Homo sapiens: one gene and its partners. The protein of the gene in region 1 purifies or fractionates together with the protein of each later gene. This does not show direct contact. Each region holds a gene or a part of one and is shown on either strand. Other genes may lie near its edges. The genes, in order: PISD, WDR19 and IFT140.

The links.
Region 2: the proteins of PISD (region 1) and WDR19 purify together in Homo sapiens (affinity purification with mass spectrometry; one large-scale study listed by BioGRID and IntAct). This does not show direct contact.
Region 3: the proteins of PISD (region 1) and IFT140 purify together in Homo sapiens (affinity purification with mass spectrometry; one large-scale study listed by BioGRID and IntAct). This does not show direct contact.

The regions. Positions count from the first base shown.
Region 1 is NC_000022.11:31,621,104-31,624,366, forward strand, and holds part of PISD (phosphatidylserine decarboxylase proenzyme, mitochondrial), read right to left. Parts: intron 2,747-3,263; coding exon of another isoform or gene 2,581-2,746; intron 783-2,580; coding exon 546-782; intron 429-545; exon of another isoform or gene 370-428; coding exon 231-369; intron 40-230; coding exon 1-39. UniProt on the Homo sapiens protein: Catalyzes the formation of phosphatidylethanolamine (PtdEtn) from phosphatidylserine (PtdSer). Plays a central role in phospholipid metabolism and in the interorganelle trafficking of phosphatidylserine.
Region 2 is NC_000004.12:39,227,483-39,231,133, forward strand, and holds part of WDR19 (WD repeat-containing protein 19), read left to right. Parts: intron 1-727; coding exon 728-875; intron 876-1,003; coding exon 1,004-1,208; intron 1,209-3,651. UniProt on the Homo sapiens protein: As component of the IFT complex A (IFT-A), a complex required for retrograde ciliary transport and entry into cilia of G protein-coupled receptors (GPCRs), it is involved in cilia function and/or assembly.
Region 3 is NC_000016.10:1,584,567-1,588,217, reverse strand, and holds part of IFT140 (intraflagellar transport protein 140 homolog), read left to right. Parts: intron 1-193; coding exon 194-285; intron 286-913; coding exon 914-1,020; intron 1,021-1,032; exon of another isoform or gene 1,033-1,089; coding exon of another isoform or gene 1,090-1,123; intron 1,124-1,942; coding exon 1,943-2,088; intron 2,089-3,651. UniProt on the Homo sapiens protein: Component of the IFT complex A (IFT-A), a complex required for retrograde ciliary transport and entry into cilia of G protein-coupled receptors (GPCRs).

The DNA of each region.
Region 1 (3,263 bases):
GGGTGACCAGCTGGTTCTTGAAGGAGTCACACGACGCGGCTGTGGAGTAGGAGCAGACGTGGGGGCCACCAACACAGTGAGCACCCAGCACGGAGCCCGAGTGTGGTCTGCACATGGATTCTCAGGGAGGCCCCACATGCCAGCCTCAGTTCCTTCCCCAGCATTCCCCTCCCTCCCGGTCCAGCCACACAGCAGCAGGGCTGCCTAGCCCCGCCTGTGCAGTGACCCACCTGGTGGGAAGGGCAGGTCCTCTGTGCACATACGCGGGCCCAGGAACGACTCCAGGGAGTAGGTGACCCCCTTTACCTGCTCCACCTCACAGTTCTTCACCTGCCCAAAGTTGAGGATCCTTCCATCCGATGGGCTAATCTGGAAGGGCAGGAGAGGCTTGCTGCCAGGGAGAGCAGGGTCTCCTCCCCCCAGGAGACAGCCCCCACCTCCCCTTGTCATCCTGCCCCTTCCAGATACGCTGGAGACCAGGGGGGCTGTGCTGGGGAGGCAGGAAAAAGTCCTGTTTCCTGCAGGAGGAAAGGGTCAGGCCTCACCACGCTGTGCAGGCCACAGACAGGCCGGGCCTGCGGCTTCAGCTTGCGCCGGAAGAACTCGCTGAGGTTGCGGTAGTGATGCAGGTCCTCCACAGCGGCCTCTTTCATGTTCACCCCAAACGTCCAGATGTACAGGCTGTAGACGGGCCTGCGCAGCCAGTGTGGCAGCTCCACCTGATTGAGGCGACCCCAGGCCCGTGACAGCAAGCGCGTTGGCACTGACTTGTACAAAGCCACCTGCAGGCCACAGGGCAAGGGGCTGAGTTGACCACACTGCCCCAGCTCCAGAGAGCCCAAGTAGTGTCATTAGCCCAGCTCTCACTTCAGGGGAGAATCTGCACCCCACGGAGGACACCAGGGCCCAGGTGCCCCACGCTGCTTTTGTGATGTGGCTGTTTCTCACTGGGAACCAGACTGCACCTGCCACACGGAGTGCTGGATTTACATACAACTCCAGTGGATTTCATCATTTCATGCAAAAGTCAAATAGCAACTGCTCCAGTCCCAGAACGGGAGACGCCCAGCAGTCTTACTTCTTAAAGTGGGGGTCGGAAACGGATCTGATCCTAACCACAGTGTGTGACCCTAGCCACGGTGACCCCAATATCACAGTGTGTGGAGAGGTGGTGGGCATCTTGCCCGTGGTCACTGCCCATATCCCAGACCACCAAAGGAGGAGGCTCCCAAGTGCATGGAACAAGTCTACAGCCCAAAGTGTGTCCCTCTGTCTTAACAGGAAGAAGGAGGATACCCTGAGCACCAACAGGGATTTTCAGATGCAGGTCTGCGATGTCACTGTCACCTGGGCCTGAGCTGCAGACACAGGGTCTGCAGCCCCCACAGGTCCAGCCAGCACTCTTGAGGGCCTGGATGCAGCCAGTCTGAGAAGCCCAGCCCTGCTGAGCCCCACCTTGGCCCCACGGCAGGACTTGTGTTCAACGTTCTACTGTGACTGAGCCAGGCCATAAAGCCATCTGCACCTGGGGTTCCTCCCAGGAGGCAAAGAGAAGTCATCCCCTCAGGCCCCTCTGTTCTCTCTTCCTTCAGGGAAGCCTGGAGCACCTAAGACAGACGATGGCCTGGGGACAAGCACTGGGTCCCACTAGATGGTCCCAGAGCTCTCCGGCAGGGCCAGGTACCCAGGAAGGGGCAGCCTCTTAAACTTCAGGTGCTGCTGCCACTGTAGAAGCTGCCTGTAATTGGTGGCTGCTGCTTCTCTAAACACAACCAAGACACCAACTCCCCAAGGTGTAAAACTGATTTCATTCCAACTTTCAACACCTCTCCAAGGTAAGGTAAGCTCCCAGAGAGCTGCTCTTATCCCTTCCAGCTGATGCCCAGTCACACAGAAGGGCTATGTGAGCCCAGGCCCTTCCCAGGCACAGGTGGGAGCCTGGGCTAATGTCCAGGGTGCCTCAGTGCCCCTGAGCTCTGATGACACCCATGTGACTGTCAAAGGCCCAGGAACAGGGTTTCCTCCTTGGGGTCAACCTGCCTGGGAAGCCAAGGGCAAGAGCAAGCCCTCTAGGGACCAGGAGAGGACAAGCCAGTTCCCTTGCCCATTCCTGGGGCATGCCTCTGGGTTCCTTAAGGGTGTCCTCACCCTAAGGGACCCAAACAGGATCCATCCATCCTGAACCACCCCTTTGGCATCCCGGAATTAATTTGGCTTCTGTTCAAAATCACCTATAAGCTCTTTTTTGCTTGAACACAGAAAAATCAGAGACAGACACCATTTTCTGAATCCCCAGACTGGGTTCCTTCCAGAACCAGAGCCCCAAATGGCAGACATGAGGCAGGCTAGGGGAGTGGGCAGGGCACGACATGCCCTCGCAGTCACCCGCGGCCCAGGTAGTGGCCTTCTCAAAAGCTGCCTTGGCCTTGCCCACCAATGAACCTTCCGACCCGGACCCCCTGAAGATGTAGCGGTGACCTCTGCTTCTGACAGCTCGCCACCACCTCAGTCTCTCCTGCACCCCAACCTCAGGCCTGCCCGGAAGGGAGGTCCGAGCCACAGGGGCCTGTGCACACTTACCCTGCTTACGGGCCTCCATCCCACCCGGCTGAGCGGTCTGAGGGCGCCGAAGGGCAGGAGGTAGTAGAGGACGGTCAAGGGCCAGGAGCGCAGTTTCAGAGCGGGTCTGGACATGCAGCTCAGCTGCCCCAGCCTCCGCCTCAGGGCCAGCTGGGGGAAGTGCAACCTGCAGGGCACAGGTCCATGCACAGCCAGGTCAGTGGCCAGGCTCTGGGCAGGACCCAGGAGGCTGCCACCTGCACCCAGGGCAGGATTCCTCCTGTCTACCCACCCTTGGCAAGCTGCCTCTCCATGGGGGTGATGGAGCCCAGCAAGCACTGGCTGTGCCCCCTCGTCCCAACCCCATTCTGATTCAGGGGCTTGGCTGCCTCTGGCTAGCGGACTCATTTCCCAGGCTCTCCCACCCGCCAGCCAGCTGGGGAGGACTGGGAATGTGGGGGCAGCCGCAAGAGGAGAGTCAGGCCCAGCTGCGGGGCACCTCTCAGCTGCAGCAGCTCCCAGCAAGGGCCTCCAGGCCCAAGCACCTGGGCCCAGGAAGGGGAGAGCAGGGTGTAGGGCCTGCCTCACATCCCTCAGCCTCCGCAGCCCAGGAGAGTGGGCCCCAGGGGCCAGCTCTGCCACACAGGCACTGGCACGGCAGCACATAGCGCTGAGGAGCTACGACCCAGCCAGCTGGGTAACCA
Region 2 (3,651 bases), on another chromosome or scaffold:
GCTAAACCTGTGCAGAAAACTTTTGTTGTCTATATTCCCCATACAGTATGACAACTATTTACATAGCATTTATATTGTATTAGGTATTATAAGTAATCTAGAGATGATTTAAAGTATAAGGGAGGGTGTACATAGTTTATACACATATTACACCATTTTATTCAGGGATTTGGCCATCTGTGGGTTTTGCTATCCGTGGGAGATCCTGGAACCAATCCCTCATGGATGTTGAGGGATGATTGTATATTTATATTTGTTGACATGCATTTTAGAGAAGCTTTTGAAATAAAGTATCCCTAGTGTAATTTACTTCAATCATGTGAGTTAATTTGTTTCTTAATACCCACTATTATCAAATACTCAGTATTATTGAAAAATTTCTAAACACAAGTACAAGTGTGTTCGTAGTTTAAATTTCTGTCATCCTGAGCAGCTTTAATTTTTTTTCCTTAACCTGAAGCTTTGTGTCTAGACTTGTGGGTTCTCCTACAAATTTGCCAGATTTTAGATCAAACCTTGGCTTTTCCAAATAACTATAGTTTTTTCAAGCCAGACCTAGGATAGGAATGGAAAAAGAAACTTTCTTTCCTGTTGTTGTTGGAGTGATGTTAGGTTGAATATGACTCAGTAAGCTAAGCCAGCTAAGGCTGCAAACAGGCTTCTACCACGGCAAATGATAATGATTCAAGTACAGACTTGGGGCAAATCTGTAAATTTTATTTTGTAGGTCAATGACGCTACCTATGAGATTCCAGATTTTTCACCAACCATTAAAGGTGTTCTTTGGGAAAACTGGCCAATGGATAAAGGTGTATTTATTGCTTATGATGATGATAAGGTGTACACTTATGTCTTTCACAAGGACACTATACAAGGTACTAAACCCCTTTTGTGTATATTCGCTGACAGATGAATTTCCCATTGCAGTAAAATTAAAACATTCTTTCTGATGTTTGTGCTGAGTATTAGCTTTCAGCATTGCGATGTCTGTTTTATAATGTAGGAGCCAAGGTTATTTTGGCTGGTAGCACCAAAGTTCCTTTTGCTCATAAACCTTTGCTGCTATATAATGGAGAGCTGACCTGCCAAACACAGAGTGGAAAAGTAAACAACATCTACCTTAGCACCCATGGCTTTCTCAGCAACTTAAAAGATACGGGGCCTGACGAACTGAGACCAATGCTGGCACAGAATTTAATGCTAAAGAGGTAGGCTTTCACACACTTCTTTTGGAACTTCTCATTTGCTTTTGTGATTTTAAAGGTCAAATCCTATAATTATTCTATCTTATTTTATTGCTTTATTCTTTATCCTTGCAAGAATTTTTTTTTTTTTTGTAAATGTAGAAGTACAAGTGCAGTTGTGCTACATGGATATAGTGCATATGGTGAAGTCTGGGCTTTTAATGTACCCATCACCAGAATAGTGAACACTGTACCCAGTGGGTAGTATTTTATCCCTCAACCCTGTCTCACCATCCCGCCTTTTGGAGTTGCCAGTATCTATTATTCCACCTGTATGTCCATGTGTACCCATTGTTTACCTCCCACTTCTAAGTGAGAACATGCAGTTTTTGACTTTGGGGCATTTCACTTAGGATAATGACCTCGAATTCCATCCATATTGCTGCAAAAGACATGATTTCATTTTTTTAATGGCTGAGTAGTATTCCATAGTGTGTATATCTATATATACACACCACTTTTTAAAATCCAGTCATCTGTTGATGGACACTTAAGTTGATTCCATGACTTTGCTATTGTGAATAGTGCTGCAGTAAACATATGAGTGCAGGTGTCTTTTTGATAAAATGTCAAATCCTATTCAATAGATGGAGATAACAGCACTTACCTTGTTCATTTCACAGGGATATTGTGAGGCTCAGATAAGATAGTCAGCTGTTTTTATTATGAGTACTTTATTACAAGAAAAGCCCTTAAGAACAAAACGGTTTCTAAGCTTCCAGAGAGCCTAGTTATTGGGAAATCCTAATAAAATAAACCTAATTATTTCAACAATATCTTGACTTCATCATAGTGAGGTTTGATTTTGCTTTGCTTATAATTTCCTTTTACTGTTTTTTTCTCTTATCTCCTAGAGCCACCGTGAATTCCTTTGACGTTCTAATTCTTCCGAGCCTCTCTTAAATGCTGCTGTTTATTGGGGTCTCATGAGTTTCCTTCTCTTCTTACTCTAATTATTCTTCCTGAGTGAATCTCCTCTGCTTAACATGGCTCAACATACCACCCATATGAAGCTGACTCTAAAATCTGTGTCTTTATCTTAAACCTGTACTTACAACTACCTTCCAGTCATGTGTCCTTGGAAGTCCATGAGCTCTTCAAACTTGCCCTTTCTAAAACTGAACTCATCAATTTCCACAGGCCCCTATTTTCCCTCACTGTAATCACACATGCACATGCCTTAACACACATATACACCAGCTCCTTTCCTCCTCCCGTGTTCCCTCATCTTTACCCAGGCCCTCACCTGGAATAATGTGTAATGTAACTAACCACTTCCTAACTGCTCTGTCTGCCAATAGCCTTGTAACGATCTCATCTGTTCTCCACACACTTTTGAAGATGTGATTTGATCCTCTTATTTCCCTGCTCAGGATCCTTCAGTGACTTTCTATTGCCTTTACAAACAAATCCATTCCTGGGGGACCTCTATGACCTACTAGGCACTTCATGATTTAACACCAGCTCAACTGTCTCCACTCAAGTCCCTCTCTGTTCCACTGGCTGCTGAAATTGCATATATTTCATGATTCTTCCTGGAATGCCCTTTCCCTGCTCTGAATGTAGTAACCCCTCTTTCTTTACCCATCAGCGATAAGTGGAGCCATCTCCTGCTCCAGGAAGCCTTCCCCGACTTCCCCACCACCACAGGCAGTCCTGCTTGGGGTCTTTCTGATGTGTTGCCTCAGAGCCAGGATGCAGTATACACAGTGGTGAAGAGCATGACACCACTTACCTCTGTGTGCCTTGGGCTAGTCTTTTGACGTCTCTAAGCCTCATTTTCCTAATCTATAAAGGAGACATAATAATAATACTTAGTGGGTAGGGTTATTAGGGTAAGAGAATTTATGCAAAAGACTTAGCACAAAGAGTTACCTATTGTAAGTACTCAGTTACCTCTGTCAAACTATGCTATAGTCATTTGTTTCCTTATCTGTCTCTTCCACCTTCCCCAATTGTGACTGCCTTAAGGACAGCAACTGTGGTTGATTTTTGTATCATGTTTCCAAGCATGTAACGAGTTCAGTAAATGTGTGTTGGATGAAAAAATGGATAGGTGAATAGATAAATGGATGAATGAATAGATAGATGGATGTAATATATTCACTCATGTAGAGGTTCCACAAAAAGTTTAATTGGCATTTATGTTCATGTTTTAAACCAGAGGTCGGAAAACCTTTTGTGTTAAGGTCCAAATGGCAAATATTTCAAGCTTTACGGGCCATAGGGTCTCTATCGCAGCTACTCAGTCTGGCTGTTGTAGCAGGAAAGTGGCCACAGACAATCCATTAAAGAGTGGGCTGGGCCGGGGACGGTGGCTCACACCTGTAATCCCAGCACTCTGGGAGGCCGAGGCGGGCGGATCATGAGGTCAGCAGATCAAGACCATCCTGGCTAACACGATGAA
Region 3 (3,651 bases), on another chromosome or scaffold:
GTAGTGGTTTGCTTCGGCCCCTACATCTCAAAACCCAAAGCCACCTCACAGAGTTTCTATCATTTGTCCCCATGTTTCCCCCACTTGGTGAGTCTCCATGAAGTCACTGAGGACCAGAGACTCCAGGCTCCTGAAGCCGGGACAGGCCGTCTCAGCAAGCACGGTGCCTCTGCTCGGTTGTTTCCTCACACAGGTCAAGCTGAGCGGGAAAACCGGCCGCCGGGCAGACATCGCTTTGATTGAAGGCAGCCTTCTCGTGATGGCCGTCGGGGAGGCTGCCCTCAGGTGAGAGTCTGCCTTTCCAGTGCCCCTTGATGAGAGTTCCCTGAGGAACAGGCTCCTCTAAGTCAGCTTTGTGTTGGAATGGAGCATATGTAAAATGCACATATGATGCTGAGTGCTCTCATACTGGACGTACCCATTCACCAGCTCCCAGACTGAGGAGCTGAGCATTAAGAGACCCCAAGAGTCCCTGCCCGCCCCACTGCACTCCCTCGGGGCTCCCCTTACCCCCAGGTGGCCCTGCCTTGGTGTTTGCCCGTGGAATCTCTTTGCCTGGTTTTTCGGAGTGTGGCATAACTAGAATCAGTCGTTGTGGTCTCTGCTGCCTGCTGCGTTAGCTCAGTGTGCTGTCCGGGGCCATCTCGTGCTCTGTGTGGGGCTGCAATTCCTGTGTTCTCTTGGCGACCTCCTGCCATATACAAACCACCATCTATCGGCAACGGCTTTCTTTCATTAGAAACAGGACATAAAATGTCCCAAATGTAACAGCAGTGTTCGTTTTCATATCAGGAGTCTGATGAACTATGTCTTTTTCCTGACTTTTAATGTTTGCTCCACAGGTTCAAAAACCCCTCAGAGGGAAACGCCACTAACACAGGCCCTCCATGGGGCTTGCTTTCTTCTGTTGTAGATTCTGGGACATAGAACGAGGAGAGAATTATATACTGAGTCCAGATGAGAAGTTTGGCTTTGAGAAAGGAGAGAATATGAACTGTGTGTGTTACTGTAAAGTCAAAGGTGAGGCTTCCTGGCCTGGCACAAGAGAAACAGAACCAACCACAAGCATTGTGCGCCGGCTGCAAAATAATGGTAGTGAAACGTGGAGGCTACTCACACAATGGTAACTTGGTAACTCACAGCCATTCAAATAGTCGGGCAAGGGCAAGCAAGCAACGGCAGAGCTTTGTGATCCCACATGAAGGCCAGGGGGTTTGGTTAGAAGCATGACAACCTGCATCCCAGTACTTGGGGAGGCTGAGGAGGGAGGATCACTTGAGCCCAGGAGTTCAAGACCAGCCTGAGCTACATAGTGAGACCCCGTCTCCACAAAAAATACAAAAATTAGCCAGGTGTGATGGTGTACAGCGGTGGTCCCATCTACTCAGGAGGCTGAGGTGGGAGGATTGCTTGAGCCTGGGAGGTTGAGGCTGCAGTGACCTAAGATGGTGCCAGTGCACTCCAGTCTGTGTGACAGAGCGTGACCCCATCTAACAAGAAGCAAACCGATTCCTGCTCATTGATCTCTGTTCCCTCCTGAAATGCCACGGGAAGGACAGTGCAGGAAGTGTGTGTGTGTGTGTGTGTGTGCATGCATGTGTGTGTATGTGTGCATATGCACATCCAGAGCACAGGAGACTAGGAGGTGAGCCAGAGCCGCGTCTCTAGTGCCTGCTGAGTGCTGAGCATGGGGCAGCCCCGAGCCAGGCCAACTGGCCTCTAGGAAAGCTGGGAGAGCAGCATCCCCCACCACCCCCGCACTGGCACTGTGAGGTCAGGGCAGCAAGGACCTGGGCAGAAAGATGCAGCCAGGGATGAGGTGGAGAGGCACCAGACTGGGCGAGGGCTGATGCTTTGAAGAAGGGGGTTAGAGAACAGAGCTTGTTGCTGTTTTGTTCCCTTTTTTTAACTCTGTTCACATGCAGTTTGTTTCTACCTGTAGGTCTTCTGGCCGCTGGTACCGACAGAGGGCGAGTAGCCATGTGGAGGAAAGTACCAGACTTCCTGGGCAGCCCCGGGGCAGAGGGCAAGGACAGGTGGGCCCTTCAGACCCCTACCGAGCTCCAAGGAAACATCACGCAAATCCAGGTACAGCCTCCAAGGGTGTTCGGTGCACTCATTTTCTGCTGCATGAAAGTGGAGACCATGGCCGGGCGCGGTGGCTCACGCCTGTAATCCCAGCACTTTGGGAGGCCAAGGCGGGTGGATCATGAGGTCAGGAGATCGAGACCATCCTGGCTAACACGGTGAAACCCTGTCTCTACTAAAAAATACAAAAAATTAGCCGGGCGTGGTGGCGGGCGCCTGTAGCCTCAGCTACTCAGGAGGCTGCGGCAGGAGAATGTCGTGAACCCAGGAGCTGGAGCTTGCAGTGAGCCGAGATTGTGCCACTGCACTCCAGCCTGGGAGACAGAGTGAGACTCCGTCTCAAAAAAAAAAAAAAAAAAAAAAGAAAGTGGAGGCCATAAATGACTCTGAACCTATTTTTATCAGTTATTCAACTTAAGACTATGTGAAAATAACAATAATAAGACATTTTAAAAGACCTTTTGGATTTCAGAATTGCAGATAAGAGATTGTGGACCTGTATTAGTTATAATATGTATCTACCCACGAACCCATCCCTCCCTCTCCATCTCTCTCTATCTGTATGAAAAAGAGCTTTACTGAGATATAACTCATGATATATACAAAGTGGTTTTTGGTATATTCACAATTTTACAAACATCACTGCAGTGAATTCTAGAACAGTTTCAGCGCCACAAAAAATCTGTACCTTTTAGTGGTCGCTCTTATTTTCCCCTCTCCAGCCCTTGGCAGCCACTAATCTACCTCCTCTCTCTAAGGATTTGCCCATTCTGGATGTTTCATGGAAATGGAATCACACAACACCTGGTCTTTTGTGCCCGGCTGCTCCCACTGAGCTGAGGTTTCAAGGCCCCTCCAGATTGTAGCCTGTGTCAATGCTTTGCTCCTTTTCATGGCTGAATCACATTCTCTGCTGTGAACAGACCACGTTTTCTTTCTCCATTCATCAGTTGATGGACATTTGAATAATGCTGTTACGAACACTTGTGTACACGTTTTTGTGTGAGGATGTTTTAATTTCTCTGCAGCATTTGGTTCTTTCTTATGATTTCTCTCTGTTCCTGTTCTCTACCTGATGAGACACTGTCGTTGTAGCTTCCTTCACTTCACCAGGCTGGTTTCCTTCAGCTCCTTCACCACGTTTCCAGTGGCTGCTTTGAAGTCTTTGCTAAGTCCAACATCTGAGCCCTTTCAGAGCAGTTTCTGATGTCTGGGTTTTTTCCTATATGGAATTTATACTTTCCTATTTTGCATAGGTCTTTATTTATTTTTAGATAGATTTAGAAGTTTAATATAAAATTATGAAACCAACATTTCACATCAGCAGAAGAAAGCTGGATAATTTAATCCATTATGTAAACTTCCTGTCTGTTTATAAAAAACATAAACATCCCTATGTCACACTCAGAAAAGTGTGTCCCACTCAGAAAAACTCTAGAAAACGCTCTTCCCATCAGAACAGACATACCAGTGCTGCCTGTCCAATCACAACCCTTGAGCATCAGTATCTTGAAGTCTTTCTACACAGCATACTCTTTACCTTTATAAGACTTTTCTTATAAT